Regions from separate parts of the Homo sapiens genome. Here all the other regions are reported to be linked to region 3. The links are microRNA targets in miRTarBase. Many come from high-throughput screens and were not tested one by one. Region 3 holds a microRNA gene; each other region holds the end of a gene's coding sequence.

Evidence for each region. Region 3 holds the annotated microRNA hsa-miR-940 (AAGGCAGGGCCCCCGCUCCCC, at 1,554-1,574, opposite strand). A microRNA usually pairs through its seed, bases 2 to 8, with sites in the 3' UTR of a target mRNA and lowers its output. Matches are read on the target gene's strand: a 7mer-m8 pairs with bases 2 to 8, a 7mer-A1 pairs with bases 2 to 7 and ends in A, and an 8mer does both.
Region 1: the mRNA of SYT7 is a reported target of hsa-miR-940. Seed matches in the 3' UTR shown: 7mer-m8 at 2,032-2,038.
Region 2: miRTarBase lists CCDC125 as a target of hsa-miR-940. Seed matches in the 3' UTR shown: 7mer-m8 at 2,688-2,694, 7mer-m8 at 2,553-2,559 and 7mer-m8 at 1,487-1,493.
Region 4: the mRNA of CYP4A11 is a reported target of hsa-miR-940. Seed matches in the 3' UTR shown: 7mer-m8 at 2,508-2,514, 7mer-m8 at 1,791-1,797 and 7mer-m8 at 1,745-1,751.

What each region holds. Positions count from the first base shown.
Region 1 is chr11:61,515,638-61,519,595 of GRCh38, reverse strand. SYT7 (synaptotagmin 7) reads left to right here. Exons shown (of 13, transcript NM_001365809.2): 13 at 865-3,958. The coding sequence ends at 969. Among named protein-coding and RNA genes, the nearest start is that of LRRC10B, 8.9 kb to the right of the region's middle.
Region 2 is chr5:69,279,777-69,283,734 of GRCh38, forward strand. It overlaps CCDC125 (coiled-coil domain containing 125), which reads right to left. Exons shown (of 12, transcript NM_176816.5): 12 at 399-3,258. The coding sequence ends at 2,953. Among named protein-coding and RNA genes, the nearest start is that of CDK7, 47 kb to the left of the region's middle.
Region 3 is chr16:2,269,422-2,273,379 of GRCh38, reverse strand. MIR940 (microRNA 940) reads right to left here and starts at 1,633; the gene lies at 1,540-1,633. It overlaps MIR3677HG (MIR3677 and MIR940 host gene), which reads right to left. Exons shown (of 3, transcript NR_132988.1): 2 at 1,489-1,704; 3 at 308-393. MIR3677 (microRNA 3677) reads right to left here and starts at 2,667; the gene lies at 2,608-2,667.
Region 4 is chr1:46,927,502-46,930,501 of GRCh38, forward strand. CYP4A11 (cytochrome P450 family 4 subfamily A member 11) reads right to left here. Exons shown (of 12, transcript NM_000778.4): 12 at 1,687-2,809. The coding sequence ends at 2,614. Among named protein-coding and RNA genes, the nearest start is that of CYP4A11, 12 kb to the right of the region's middle.

The DNA of each region.
Region 1 (3,958 bases), not on the chromosome of region 3:
CTGTCCCAGCATCCAATCCAGGACACCACATTGCATTTAATAGGCATGTCTCCCCTGTCCCCTCTGGCCCTTGACAGTTTCTCAGTCTTTCCCATTCTCTATGATCTTAACGGTCTTAAGGAATACTGGCCGGGTGTCCTATAGAAGGCCCCATGTACCTGTTTTTTCTCCAATGCTCATACTCTTAATCACCCCCAAGTCCCAAAGCTGAGGTCAGCTGGGCCAATCCTGGGGGTTCCGGAGGGATTCATGCATGCAGCCGGGTGAGGCTGCGAAGCAGGATTAGGCCGGTAGCATAGAGCTCCAAAGACCTGGATTTCAATCCCTCTGCACCACTTATAAACCCTGTGACTGTGGGTAAGTCTCTTAACTCTTCGTACCTTAGTTTCCCCATCTGAAAAATGGAGATAATCATATAATCCTACCTCACAGTTGTAGGATTTGATGATCTATGTGTATGAAGTCCCTAGCTCAGTACTCACATGTAGCAAGTGCCCAGGAGTTGGGAATGATTATAATTCAGGGGGGCTGGACATCACCCAACAGATAGGGCAGGGAAGGCCATGGAGACAAGCTGCCTCCAACCCCACCTTCCAGACCCCACTGCAAAATAGGTTGGCAGTCTAATTCCGAGAGGCCTGGCGTGCCCAGGCTTGGGGGTGTGGGGGTAGACAACCAGGAAAATAGATCAGGCTGACTGGGGGAGGGAGGAGAGCGCCTCTGTGGGGTAGGTTGTCACAGCATGTGGAGGCTGGGGGGCCACAGGCTAGGGTATCATGGTGGAGTTGGGGTGTCACCCCTGTGGGGGAAAGGGCCAGTGCCCTGGAGCCTGTGCCGATGCCATCGTCTCCCCTTTCTCCCCAGATCTACCTGTCCTGGAAGAGCGGGCCAGGGGAGGTGAAGCACTGGAAGGACATGATTGCCCGTCCCCGGCAGCCCGTGGCCCAGTGGCACCAGCTGAAGGCCTGAGTGGGGCCAAGGGAGGCCCAGGGGGCCGAGGGCCCAGGTCCCCATCATGCCCTCACCACTTTATGCACAACGCCCGGCCTGAGCCCCCTGCCATAGGGAGGGGAGGACCCTGAGGGCTCAGCCAGGGAGGGGTCCCAGGACTCAACTGGGCCCCGTTTCTAGGAAGTACCAGCCCCATCCCCCACAGTCCAGCTCCGGGGAAGGGGCTCTGGGAGGCATTTTCCTGCTTTGCCCCTTTTCTTCCTGACTTACTAATACTAAAGAAGTTGGGGGAGCTCGAGAGCCAGACGGCCAGACAGGCAGACCCCTCCAGAGGCCCGCCAGGTGGGCATGGTCCCCCATTTTCTTTAAGGCAGCACCTGGAGTGGAGAGAGGCCACTCCCTCTCCAGCCCCCGATGTGGACCCGGGGAGGGGAGGCTGAGGCGTTTGGCCCCGGCCTGGCCAGGAGAGGCCCATCCCCAGGGCAGTTTCAGGTGCCGGCTGGGCCCTGAATGTCGAGGATAGTATATAGCCCGCTCCTGGGTCCTGGAGCTGTGGCCCTTTGTACTCGTGTTGTGTCCATTGTGTGTGTGCGTGGGGACAGAGGCCTGGAAATGCGGAGGACTATACAGAGAAGGCAGGTTTTGTGAAGGCCAGGCAGGGTTGGAGGCCGGGGGTGTGAGAGGAGAGGCCCATAGGGCTGAGTGGGGTCGGGTGAGGCAGAGGTCAGAAACAGAAGAGCTGCAGTTGCTGGAGCTGGGCTGAGAACTGGGCTGCCTCCTGCCATCCCCCCGTCTCCTCCCCTTCTCCCCTTGGTGCCCCCCTCTGCTCAGAATCTGAAGTAGTTCCCTCCTCAGCAATTTCATCTCTTGAACACTGACTCACACCTTTTAGGCACCTACTGTGTGCATAGCATTCCACCAGGACTCATCTCCCTTCCTTCTCAGGGGGTCCCGAGCCCCGACTAGCTTTGCCCTAACTCCTTCATCAAAAGACCCCCCGCCAGCTTCCCACACCTCATACGCAGCCACATCTGCCCTATTCTCCATGCTTTCCAGCTTGCCTGCCCTTCCTCATCTCTCCCTGCCTGTGCAGACCTCCACCCTTCTTTCCTCCACCCCTCCATCCCCCAATGCTTGTAGACCTTCCATTCATTCCGTCTCATCGTGCGTGGTCTCTGATCGTCCATCACCTGACCTTCTCCAGGACTGTCTTCTCACCCTTCCCCACTCCCTGGTCCCCGGGAGCAGCTCCTTCTGCCCGACTCACTCACAGTGCAGGGAAAGGAGGCAGGGAAAAGACCAGGATTCTGTGAGTTCTGAGGTTGCCACACACAAAGAAGCTGTGGTTTCTCTGCCTCGGCCACTGATGAGACTAAAACTGGCTTCCCCTTGGAGACGGCAGATTTCAGGCTGATCCCTGCTTAAGCCCTCTCATCCCCACGCTGGTCCTGGTATTGATACAAGACCCAGCTGGTGACAAAGCCTCCAATCCTGGGGGTCCACGAGCCTGGGCCTGACATTCCCAGAACTACCGCCAGGTGGCGCCAGGCCCCCACAGTCTGTGGCCGTGGTCTTAGCCCCCAGTTCCACTCTGGATGGGCCTGTGACACCCCAAAGAGAAGAAGGGGACTCTGGATAGGGTCCCCACATCCAGGGCGTGGGGAGACCATTGGCATTTGGGAACCATTTTCCTTCGAACGGCTTCCCCTTGAGCTGAGCATTCTGCTTGCTGCAGTAGACGGGTCGCCTTTTGCCCATACCGAAATTTTCTGAAATTAAATCGCACACCCCCACCATTTCCTCTCCCTGGGATCTGGAGGAACATCATACATAGTAGGTGAATCGTTTTGTAGAGTGAAGAATGCTAATGTAAAGCAAATAGTCACCCACGTTCCTTGTAAATCCAAATGTTTCTATATTGTAGCTTTGCTTAAAATGGGGTCGGCCCCAACTGCATCCTCCTCTTTGGCGGGCTGGGGAGCGGCCCCCAGCCGGGACGGGAGGGCAGCGACCCCGAGGCCTCGTGGACGTGGGAGAGAGTGTGGTGGGAAGTCTTGAGCGGAGGAGGGGATCTGCCCTTCTCCACTCCTCTCTTGGATCCGCCTCGGTTTCCTGTCCCCCCACCACCCGCCTGCCCCGCGGAAGACCGCCCAGTGAGCCAGCCCCCACCTTCCAGGCGCCTTCGCCCTGGGGATCCAACCAACTTGTATCGAGTGGGCGGGGCAACGGCTCCCCATTTTTCCCGAGCCCCGCCCACAGAGCTCTTAGCCAATCCTATGCAGAGAGCATCTCCTGGCAGGGGTCTCTTCCCAACCAGACCCCACCCAGGCACATTAGCGACCAGGCTTGGGCTTCCCCAGCGCCCCACCACCACCACGTGCAGGTGGAGCTCTGGGATGCTATGTTGGGGCGGCAAGCGGTGGGCCGAGGGCCGGGTAGGCTAGCACGGGAGGTAAGGGTGGTATGGGATGGGGCGGGGGCGGTCTAGGGCAATAGGAGAGCAGAGAATGGGGGAACTTGAGGGTGGGGGGAGGGCACCGGAGCCTTGCCACCATCCCAGGACTTTGGGCAAGTCACCCGCACTCCCTGGGCCTCGGTTTCCCCATCTGTAAAATGATGGTAATAATACTTCACCTACCTCATAGGGGAGGTTGTGAGGCCACCATCACCTGACCTGGGGGTCAAGGCAGGAGGACTCCGAAGGTGCTACCCGTGAGCAAAGTGTAATTACCGAATCCTGACTGCAAGGCCCACCTGCCCCTCCCCCACAGAGCCTCCAGAGCTAGCTGAGGCCAACGCAGGCCCATCCGTCTCTTCACTCTGTCGCAGGCCCTTTCATGGGCTTCGTCTGCCATCTTTGTGGGTGCCCTAGACTTAGTCCTTATCTTGTCCTGGTTTCCTTTCTTGTGACCATCTCCCCATGAAAGTGCTGTACAAATTCCACCCGCCCCAGGACCCCCGCACCTGCCCTCTGGCACCAGATGCCAGGGAAGGGACAGAGGAAAAC
Region 2 (3,958 bases), not on the chromosome of region 3:
TGTGTCTAACACGTGAGGCAGGATAGGAGTGTATTATTCCGTTCTCAAACTGCTATAAAGAATACTACCCAAGACTCAGTAATTTATAAAGGAAAGAGGTTTAATTGACTCATAGCTCCACATGGCTGGGCAGGCCTCAGGAAACTTACAATCCTGGCAGAAGGGGAAGCAGGCATGTTTTACATGGCAGCAGGAGAGACTACCATGTATAAAACCATTGGATCTCGTGAGAACTCACAATCATGAGAACAGCATGGGGGATACCACCCCCATGATCCAGTCACCTACCACCAAGTCCCTCCTTCAACATGTGGGAATTATGGGGATTACAATTCAAAATAAGACTTGGGTGGGGACACAGCCAAACCGTATCAGGTAGTCAAGGAAATGACCATTTTCTCATGACCATACAGCCAACACAATAAACCTCAGCATTCACATTGTAATTGAGCTCATTTAAGCAAAGCTATCTTCAGTAGGGACTTTCCCTTCTAGAGAGCATACACATTTTGATTTTACCTGTCCTCAAACTGATCCTTTGCACATGATAATAATAAAAAACACACCTCTAGGTGGAAATTTAAGATGCTACTGAGACATGTGGTGTATGAACAAGCATTAACAGCTACTGCACCTGTGCAGAGGACCACCCAGGACATGATTACTGCAACACCTCACCTCCTTATGAATAATAATGCAAAACTCCCATAAAGGGAGTTTCTCCAGCAATAATCAATGCTGTCTCACCCTTACGAGCAGCCGGCCCTGAATTCTCTCTCTCAGGTGTACTGTCTGTTCTGCACCTAACTTTCAAAATACTCCTTTTCTTTTGCAATAAATTATGCTGCATCTCCTTTGCTGTCTCATTTAAATTCTTTTAAACCAAGAAGACAAGAACTGAGGTATCACAACAGCTGTCAACACATGCATTTTGCTTTATTCATTTGCTTTATCTTATGGATCTCTCCATTTTGTAGAGTATTCCATTGTATAGCTGTACAGTAATTTAGATAAACTTTTGTATTGATAGCCTTTTCTTTTGGAGATGGGGGTCTCACTCTGTCACTCAGGCTGGAGTGCAGTGGCACAATCACAGCTCACTGCAGCCTCAAGCTCCTGGGCTCATGCCATCCTCCTGCCTCAGCCCCTGAGTAGCTGGGACAACAGGTGCATGCCACCATGCCTTGCCGAGTTTTTGTATAGATGGGGTTTCACCATGTTGCCCAGGCTGGTCTTGAACTCTGGACTGGTCTGGACTTGAGATTCAGACCAGATCTGTAAGCCACTGCACCCGGCCTTGATAGCCATTTGTTTTCATACACAGCAGCAATTAGTAGCCATTTAAGATATCTGTGCGCCAGCCTACAAGAAATACAAATGTACAGGGTAAAATCCTAGCTGGATCAAATATGAGCTTTGTAAATTTTTAAAAACTTTTTTATTGAGTTGTGGTTTATGCCTGTAATCCCAGCACTTTGAGAGGCTGAGGCAGGAGGATCCCTTGAGGCCAGGAGTTTGGCACCAGCCTGAGCAACACAGTGGGACCCTGTCTACACACACACCCCACCCCCACACACCCCAATTCACATACCACAAACAAAAAAACTCCTAGAAATCACCTTGGCTCAGGCAGCTTCTTCAGATTCCTGAGACCCCATTTCCTGGATCATCACAACCATCTCACAGGATGCAATGAAAAGAGCTGTTAAGCACTTTGTAGACTTGGCTACAAATCTGTGCAGATTTGGTTGCAAAATGTTACTACCCTGACAAGAAGCCATGAACGCAGCCGGCACTGACTCAATATACTTCTGCCAAGGTCCCACCATCAAAACTGTCTTATTGAAGTTAACTTAAGGAAATTGTTATTTCTAAACTTCATATGGTAAATGAAAAATACTGAACAAGGCAAATAAAACAAGATAAATGAATTCCAGAAATTAACATTCAGTCAGTCCTAGGTATTGTTACTTTTTAGAGCATTAAGATACATTGCTATATTGTTGATTTAGCCAAGCTAAGATCCCTATAGTCAATCAAAATAGTTAAATAATTTTTTGTTTTTCCCAAAAATCATTATTTTTTGTTTTAGGATGTTGGCAAACACTGTAATGTGTTTTTTTTTTTTTTTGAGACAGAGTTTCGCTCTTGTCGCCCAGGCTGGAGTGCAATGACACAGTCTCGGCTTACCACAACCCCCGCCTCCCAGGTTCAAGCGATTCTCCTACCTCAGCCTCCCAAGTAGCTGGGATTACAGGCATGCGCCACTAGGCCTAGCTAATTTTTTGTATTTTTAGTAGAGATGGGGTTTCTCCATGTTGGTCAGACTGGTCTTGAACTCCAGCCTCAGGTGACCCACCCACCTTGGCCTCCCAAAGTGCTGGGATTTATAAGCATGAGCCACCATGCCCAGCCTGTAATGTAATTTATAAATACAGTAATGTAATTTATAAATAAAATGTCAACACAGAATACTAATTTCTTGTAGAAAATGTAGAAAATAGGCTGGGTGTGGTGGCTCACGCCTGTAATCCCAGCACTTTCGGAGGCCAAGGCAGGCGGATCACTTGAGGTCAGGAGTTCAAGATCAGCCTGGCTAACATGGTAAAACCCCGTCTCTACTAAAAATACAAAAATTAGCTGGGCGTGGTGGCACATGCCTGTAATCCGAGTTACTCGGGAGGCTGAGGCAGGAGAATTGCTTGAACCGGGAGGCGGAGGTTGCAGTGAACCGAGATCACACCACTGCACTCCAACCTGGGTGACAGAGCAAGACTCCATCTCAAAAGAAGAAAAAGAAAATGTAGAAAATATTTGATTTAAGTGACCTCCTAAAATTTAGAAATACCTAGGAAACATACAACTTCTCAAGATGCAGCAAAATTTACAAAATCATTTTTCAAAGTATCTCGATATAAACAACTCTCAGTTCCAATTTCAACTGGCTTGTCTTTAAAATATGATACTTGATGGCAAAGAATGGGATCTTTTAAGAGTTCTATAGTTTGGATCTATTTGAGAGTGCTGGATTGAACAAATGCAGCCCACAGAATTTAAAATGCAGACACTTGAATGTATAGGATCACCCAAAACAGAGAATTCTGAAGTCTTACGCCAGGGGTTGTTGAAAGGGAAATTCTCTTTTATAGGATTTTTTTCTTTATTCTCGTTTGAAGCAGTGTCTTTGTCTTCCAATGCCCGAGCAAGCATGTAGCTAACTTTTCTTTGATGAGCCAAAGCTTCTTCTTTATCATTAAGCTGCATGCACAGAAATTAAACATGTACAAGTTAGTCAATAAATCACAGAATATATTCAGAGAAAGGAGTATTGTACTATTTTATCAAGTTATTCAACCCTAATATTCATACTGATCTGTCCATCAGTATGAATAAATTAGGTATCACCTGATCCCCAAACATTATACTACATGTTATTCATGAATCTTTTTTTTTTTTTTTTTGAGACGGAGTCTGGCTCTGTCACCCAGGCTGGAGTGCAGTGGCACTATCTCCACTCACTGCAAGCTCTGCCTCCCAGGTTCACACTATTCTCCTGCCTCAGCCTCCCAAGTAGCTGGGACCACAGGTGCCCGCCACCACACCCAGCTAATTTTTTGCATTTTTTAGTAGAGACGGGGTTTCACTGTGTTTGCCAGGATGGTCTGAATCTCCTGACCTTGTGATCAGCCCACCTTGGCCTCCCAAAGTGCTGGGATTACAGGCGTGAGCCACCGTGCCCGGCCAATTCTTTTTTTTTTTAAGACAGGGTCTGGCTCTGTTGCCCAGGCTGGAATGCAGTGATGCCATCTTGGCTCACTGCAGCCTCTGCCTCCCAGGCTCAAGTGATTCTTGGGCCTCACCCTCCCGAGTAGAGTAGCTGGGACTATAGGCGTGCACCACCACACCTTGCTAATTTTTGTAGGCTGGTCTCGAACTCCTGGCCTCAAGTGATCCACTC
Region 3 (3,958 bases):
GAGGCAGTCCAGCACTCGGTCACCTGAGGTCTCAGGGAGGCAGGCTCCATCTGCTGCCCCGTCATCCTGGTTCACGCCTCCCTCCTCATGGTCACCTCTGTGTTCAAGGAAGTGCTTGGCCGGGCATGGTGGCTCACGCCTGTAATCCCAGCACTTTGGGAGGCCGAGGCAGGCGGATCATGAAGTCGAAAAATCAAGACCATCCTGGCTAACACGGTGAAACCCCGTCTCTACTAAAAATACAAAAAAATTAGCCGGGTGTGGTGGCGGGCACCTGTAGTCCCAGCTACTCAGGAGGCTGAGGCAAGAGAATGGCGTGAACCGGGGAGGCGGAGCTTGCAGTGAGCCGAGATCACGCCATTGCACTCCATCTGGACTACAGTGAGACTCCATCTAAAAAAAAAAAAAAAAAGGAAGTGCTCAAGTTCAGGCCGGGGTAGGGTGTGTGCAGTGGCCTCCGTCAAGTGTGTGTCACCCCCAGGCAGCTCCCTGCTGCGCCTGGACCCAACTGTGCCCTTGGCTCACTCCATCTTGCTGGGTTTCCCATCTCTGTCTTACTGGCTGCTTTCAGAGACCAGGCCCAGAGTCCCCAGGACTCAGGTGACCTTGGCTACCCTGGAATCCTGGACTAAAGATCTGCAATAGAAATGTGTCCAGCAGGGAATGTAATGTGTCCAGCAGGGAACCATCCTGTTTGCTTTGCTTTTCTGAGTTCCTACAACCAACCGGCCAGGGCGCACTGTGGGGCACAGGGATGCAGGCCCTGGAGTATGGCCACTTCTGCCTGGGGGCGTCTGGGGGGTTTCCTGAGTGAGGTGGGGTCTCACCAGCTCCAGGAGACACCACTGCCATGCACAAGGTAGGTGTGGGGGTGGAGGATCACCTCCGTGAGGACCCAGACCCCACCCACTGTGGCTGTGGTGGAGACTGCAGGTCTGTCTCAAGGCCCCAGGCCTGACACCTGCAAGAACAGAACCTGGGGGTGACGGAGAGGGGATTCCACCAGGCCAGCCCGGGGCTTGAACCCCAGCCAGGGCAGCTGCTGTCTGCTGCCCCACCAGGTAACGCACCGACCCAGCTGCTGTTCAGCTCCCCCTCTGGGCCAGCACCATGCTCATGGCATAGGCCGGCTGGGCCCTCTGAGACCCCCACTCCCACACAGACTGGTCTGCATGGAGGCTGGTGCAGCCTGTGCCGTACAGACCCTGCCCGGCTGCACTACTGGCCAGAGCCCCCTGCAGACAGGCGGCTCGAGGGGAGCTCCACCATGCAGGAGATGGCCCAGCACTGCAGTCACTTAGGCTGCTCATCCCTCCCCGAACTGACATGTCCCTCCCTCCAGATGCCCCCCACCGCCGAACCCCAGCATGCTGGGCATGCTCTGGCCATCCCACACAGGGATCAGGGTGGGAGGGCTGGAGGCTGCCTGTCAGGGGCAAGGCCTCCTCCAGGAGGTAGGACGGGGTGGTGCAGGTGGGGTCCCCTCACCTGATGGGCCCTCGAGGCCAGGCTGTAGGCAGGCAGGAGGGGGCTGAAGCAGTGGGGTCAGGCCCGGGGAGCGGGGGCCCTGCCTTCCTTCCTCAACACACGGGGCTGCCCAGGCCCCGCTCCTGGGGCCGGGCCCACACCTCACAGACACTGGTGTTGGATGCTTCGGCTTGAAGGAGCTCCAAATGGACTAGCCGCAGCTGCCCCTGGGTCCACCTGGCCCAGGCAATACCACAGAATCACCAAGGCTCATCTAGCCATGGGCCCAAACCCAAGGCCCTAAGAGGCACCCCGGGTGCCTCAGTCACAGTCCCAGGCAGCTCAGGTCCCAGGCGGCTCACAGTCACCATCCTTGACTTCATGGTAGCAGAAATGGAGTGCTTTGAGCTTGTGATGAGCACAGGCTCCCAACCCTGGGAGAGTTCAGACATGCCCACTGGAGAGGCCCCAGGCCCTGATGATACCCACTCCTCAGACATGCAAACCTGGAGCCAGGGAGGCCCCAATGAACTGCATACTCTCCCAACAGACCAAGCTCACCCCACACCAGCGCAAGGCCCTTTCAGACCCAGCCTGGCCACCCCCATGGACCTGGCCAGCACCTCCCCCAGCCCCACCCTCTCCAGACAGGCACCAGGCTGTGGTGACCCGCCTCTCAGCAGCTCCTCCTCTGATGCCTCCCCACGGTCCAGTCGTTACCCCCTCGTCCACCTGACTGGGCTGCGCATGGCCTCAGTGCAGAGCCAGGTTTTAGTAGTGGGTAAAAGGGCTCCCTTGCTGTGCTTTACCAGAGAATGCAACACCCCCAAAGCTCCTTCATGACCCACTGTGACCTGCAGCACCACCAAGCCCATCCTCATCCCTGTGTCCCAGGCCACCAGCCTCTGAGGGCAGGCACTGCAGGAGCCACCGGGCCACAGAGGATGGAGGCAGGGAGGACATTCTGCCTTCATGAGGGCATGCTCTCAAAGACAGAGCCGCCCCAAACTGTCAGCAGGTGACCCTCCGCTCTGGGAAGGCAAGGGGAGGAGCTCAGGGCCGTGGCCAGAGCCCACGAGAAGCCCGTGCCCAGCTCAGCAGGTGACCCTCCGCTCTGGGAAGGTAAGGGGAGGAGCTCAGGGCCGTGGCCAGAGCCCACGAGAAGCCCATGCCCAGCACTGCAGGGCTCTGGCCACTGCCTAATGCCCTCCATGAAGCCCTGCCTGCCCTTCCAGCAAACCAGGGCCCCTGAGGCTCCAGAAACCCCAGCTCCACTGCCCTCAGCCTCCATGGCCTTAGCAGCCTGGCTCTGGGGCTGAGCTCCTGGAAGGGCAGGGTGGGGGTAGGCTCCTGAGTTTTATTTTCTCACATTTCTTCCAGACATGCTTCTGCTGATCCTCAAAATGGCAAAAGCCAGGATGCTCAATTCTCAAAGCTCAACAGCTGATGGCACATTTGATAACAAAAATCAGTAATATTTAGAAACAAATTTGATTAAATTCGTAAGTGCCTGAATAAATCATACTTGTAGATTTAATATAAAATGTGTGAAAGCTTATTCGCAGGCCAAATGACATTACTGCAGAGCATTAAAAACCAGCAGGGGGAGGGCTGTCGGCCCAGCTGGTGCTGCGTCACGCCCACCCATGTCATGTGGGGTCACCAGGCTGCCCCTGCCCACCAGGTGTCAGTGGGGCCCTGGGCATGGGCTCTAGGTTTGGGGCCTTTTAGCACCTCTGACCACTGGACTCCAATGCCACCTCAGAGAATTCCGCCTATGCCTGCCTGGACCACCGAGGCTGCCCCCTCCCCTAGCGCCGACTCTGGGGCCCCTTCAGCAGGGGGGCGGCCCCTCTGTTCCACTTAATCTTCCATGCCTGGGCACAGCAGGTGTGACAGTAATGCAGAGACTCTAACTCACTTTACATGTCATCAAACCCAAATCCAACGGGTACCCAAACCAGACTGATGGGCCTGCCAGCCTCCACCCACAGGAACACACTGGTGACTTACTGCAGCAGACTCGGGAGGTAGCTCCTCCTCCTAGCTGCCTTTGTCCCCAACTCCTTGGACATCCCTTAGCCCAGGGTGAAGGGTCAAGGGCACACTTGACACCCTCGGACAGGGCCAGAGGGAGTGGGTCTCGGCAGGAAGTCACCAAGAGCTGGCTTCCCACACAGGGAAGAGGGCAGTGATGGCAGACCACATCCCCACTATCTATCCATCCATTCACCCACCCACCCACTCCGGGTCACCAAGCTGCACCCTGTCCTTTGCTCTGACATCTAAAGTCTCCAAGTCATGCTGGTTCTCTCCTCCCAAAGATCGGCTTGGATCTGTTCCCTTCTCCCTTCCTTGCTGCCACGAAGCTGTTCAGACAAAGTCTGAAGCTCAGCGCACCGTCAATCCCTCCACAAATAACCACAGGGCAACGACTGCCTGACAGGCACAGCAGAGAACAAAACCCGCCCTCGGCCGGGGGCGGTGGCTC
Region 4 (3,000 bases), not on the chromosome of region 3:
GGTGGCCAGCCAGAGAGGCAGACGACAACCAAGAAGTTGTGCTGTTGGGAAGGAGCTGCTTGGGGTCTGACAGCCTCTTCCACCAGCCAGACCCATTTGCCTACCTGGGCTCCTCCCACCCCTGACTGGACAGCTGCCCACTCCATGAGCTTCCAGAGAAGCCTGCAGGTTCCGTATGTGAGGAAGGTTGACAGGTACCTGGTGACGTTGCTAGGCTGGGGTCTCTTTCTACACCTCACTGGGGCTGTGGATAGCTGAATTTACAAGATCCTCATGACAGACCAGGCCTTTGAGGCTTTCTTGCTCAGCTCAGTGCAGCCTCACTATAGCTGGGATGTGGGATGTTCCCAACCAAACTCCTGAAGCCTTGATCCCCAACACAGTAGTGTTGGGAGGTGGGTCCTAGTGGGAGATATTTAGATCGTGGAGACAGATCCTTTATGAAGAGATTAGTGCCCCCTTCCACCTCACAGGCTTGAGTTTTAGCTGTATCTGGAATGGACAGGTTTCCAAGACATCGGGATCAAAACAGAGTCTTGCTTCCTTGGTCTCTCTCCTGCTTCCTCTGTCACCATGCAATCTCAGCATATGCCACTCCCCTTTTGCTTTCTGCCATGTGTGGAAGCTGCATGAGGCCTTCATCTGATTTAGCTGCCAAAACTTAAACTTTTCAGCCACCAGATCATGAGCAAAATAAACTTCTTTTCTAGATCAATTACCCAGCCTTGGGTATTCAGTTACAGTAACACAAAACACAGCAAGGCAGGCCCTTAGCTCAGCCTTGCTGTGATTCATCTTGAATCTAAATCTTGAATGGAATGGAGGCCTGGAGTCTTTTCCCTACAGGTGTGAGCTTCTCCCTCTGATCTCCTAGATAAATATCGTTTGTCTAAACTCAGCTACCATGGGAGCCTCAGGAGCTGGAGAGGGTGTGGGCACCAGGGGAGACATGGTATGAGGCTGTGTGCAGGGGGATGGATCAAACCAGGCCCTGCTAGGGTTCTGGCACAATTGGGCACACCTCATCTCCATTTTCCCTCTTCAGTAGGGATTTATCTCCCTGCCTTAGTGTCTCCTCTTCTAACCCTATCACCTTCCATGTGAAGCTGGACAAAGCATGCAAGCTTGTGAACCTTATTCTAGAGAAGAGGGAAGATAGAGGGATTGTCTGGCTGACAATCACGTATGTAGGTAGGTAGCATACAGGAGAGATTTAGATGGACACATTGGATGACAATCCGGTAGGGGCTGTGCTAGGATGAACAATGGGTCTCCATGTTGTCCACATCCTAATTCATGAAACCTGTGATTGTGGGACTGCATATGTCACAATGGACTTTTGAGTAAGTAACGGATCTTGAGGTGGTGACATTATCCTTGATTATCTTAATAAGCTTGATGTAACTAACCACAAGGGTCCTTATAAGAGGGAAAGAGATGTGAAGACAGTCACAGAGAGAGAGATTTGAAGATGCCATTGGCTTTAAAGAGGAAGGAGGGGACCGTACCAAGGAATGCAAAAAAGGCAGCTCTGGAGCTGAAAAGCCAAGGGGCAGGGCTCTCCCTGAAACCTTCTGGGGGTGGGGGTCTGGCCCTCTCCAGAACTTGTTTTAATTCAGTGAAACCCATATATCTGACTTTGACCTCCATAACTGTAAGAGAATAAAAGTCGTTATTTAAAATCACTGAGATTGTGATAGTTTATTACAGCAGTAATAGGAAACTAATATAGGAACAGACAAGCAGGCAGGAAGAAGGAGACAGGTGTATGGGCAGACAGTCTGGAGGGCAGGCAGGAGTTTGGGAGGTGGGTGGAGATTCAGGGATGTTGGGGTGTTCAGACCCAACACCAGGTCGTGGGGGTGACAAAGTCCGGCAGAGTCAAAGCAGTGAGAAAAGACAGTTTGAGAGAGAAAGTGGGTCCAGGGCGCCAAAGCTAAGGATGGAGGCTGTGAAGGCCCCGAGCTCTGGAAGTGCAGATTATTTATTGGTGATCAAACAAAGAAACAGGTGGTGAGAATGTGGGGGTCGAAAGGGCATGTTGCATTAAGCACATGATTTACAGCTGTGACGGTTTAGCATCTGCTCTGCTACTTGAGATAATGGAGAGCAGGTTCTTTTAACTCAAGATACAATTGATCCTGGGAGAGCAAGGAGCGAGGAGGCAGCAAGTTCAGACACATTCCAGAGCCACGAGCCCTGGATTCTATCCAAGCCACGAGGGGTTTTATGCCCCGGGCTTAGATTATGGTGCGTCAGGGTAGCCTTCCACCCTTCAGCACAGAGCTTGGTGTTCCAAAGGCCACAAGGGGTTTTAGACCCTGGATCCTGGACATGATCCAAGACTCTTTTACATTATGTCAGACATGCAAGCTCGGCCTCAGCTTCTCCCAACACTCAGCTTTTCTCCCAACAAGAGATACAGGTGGGTAGGAGACAGGTAGACAAGCAGGTAGGGAGCCTGGAGAAAGGTGAGAGAGAGAAGGGCAGGCAGACTGGGGGACAGCAGGCAGGTGGGAAGAAGGGAAGGTGGGCAGACAGAAAACAGGATATGGGCAGACAGGAAGGGGACAGAAGCGGGGGTCAGGAAGACAGGACGGCAGGTGGAGGCCCTCAAAGCTGGTCCTTGTCTTCACAAGGGTTAGGGAGCCTCCTGAGACGCAGGTGGATTCCATTTTTGGATTTCAACACAAGTCGTGCAATGGGGATGGGGATCCTGGTGGGATCAGGCAGCAGCTCAAAGCGGAGCAGGGTCAGGGCCGTGGCCACCTTCAGCTCGTTCATGGCAAATTGTTTCCCGATGCAGTTCCTGGGCCAGGTGGAGATAATGAATTGAGAAGTGTCCTCAGGCCCCATTCTGATCTGAGCAGGTTTTGGCCCCTGACCCCAGCCCTGAGCTGGACATTCAGTGCCCAACCTCATGTGTCCAGCCCCTGCACACATACAGCCCATGGACACTTCTACCCCGTCCTGGCTTCACACTATCCCAATCCTTGGACA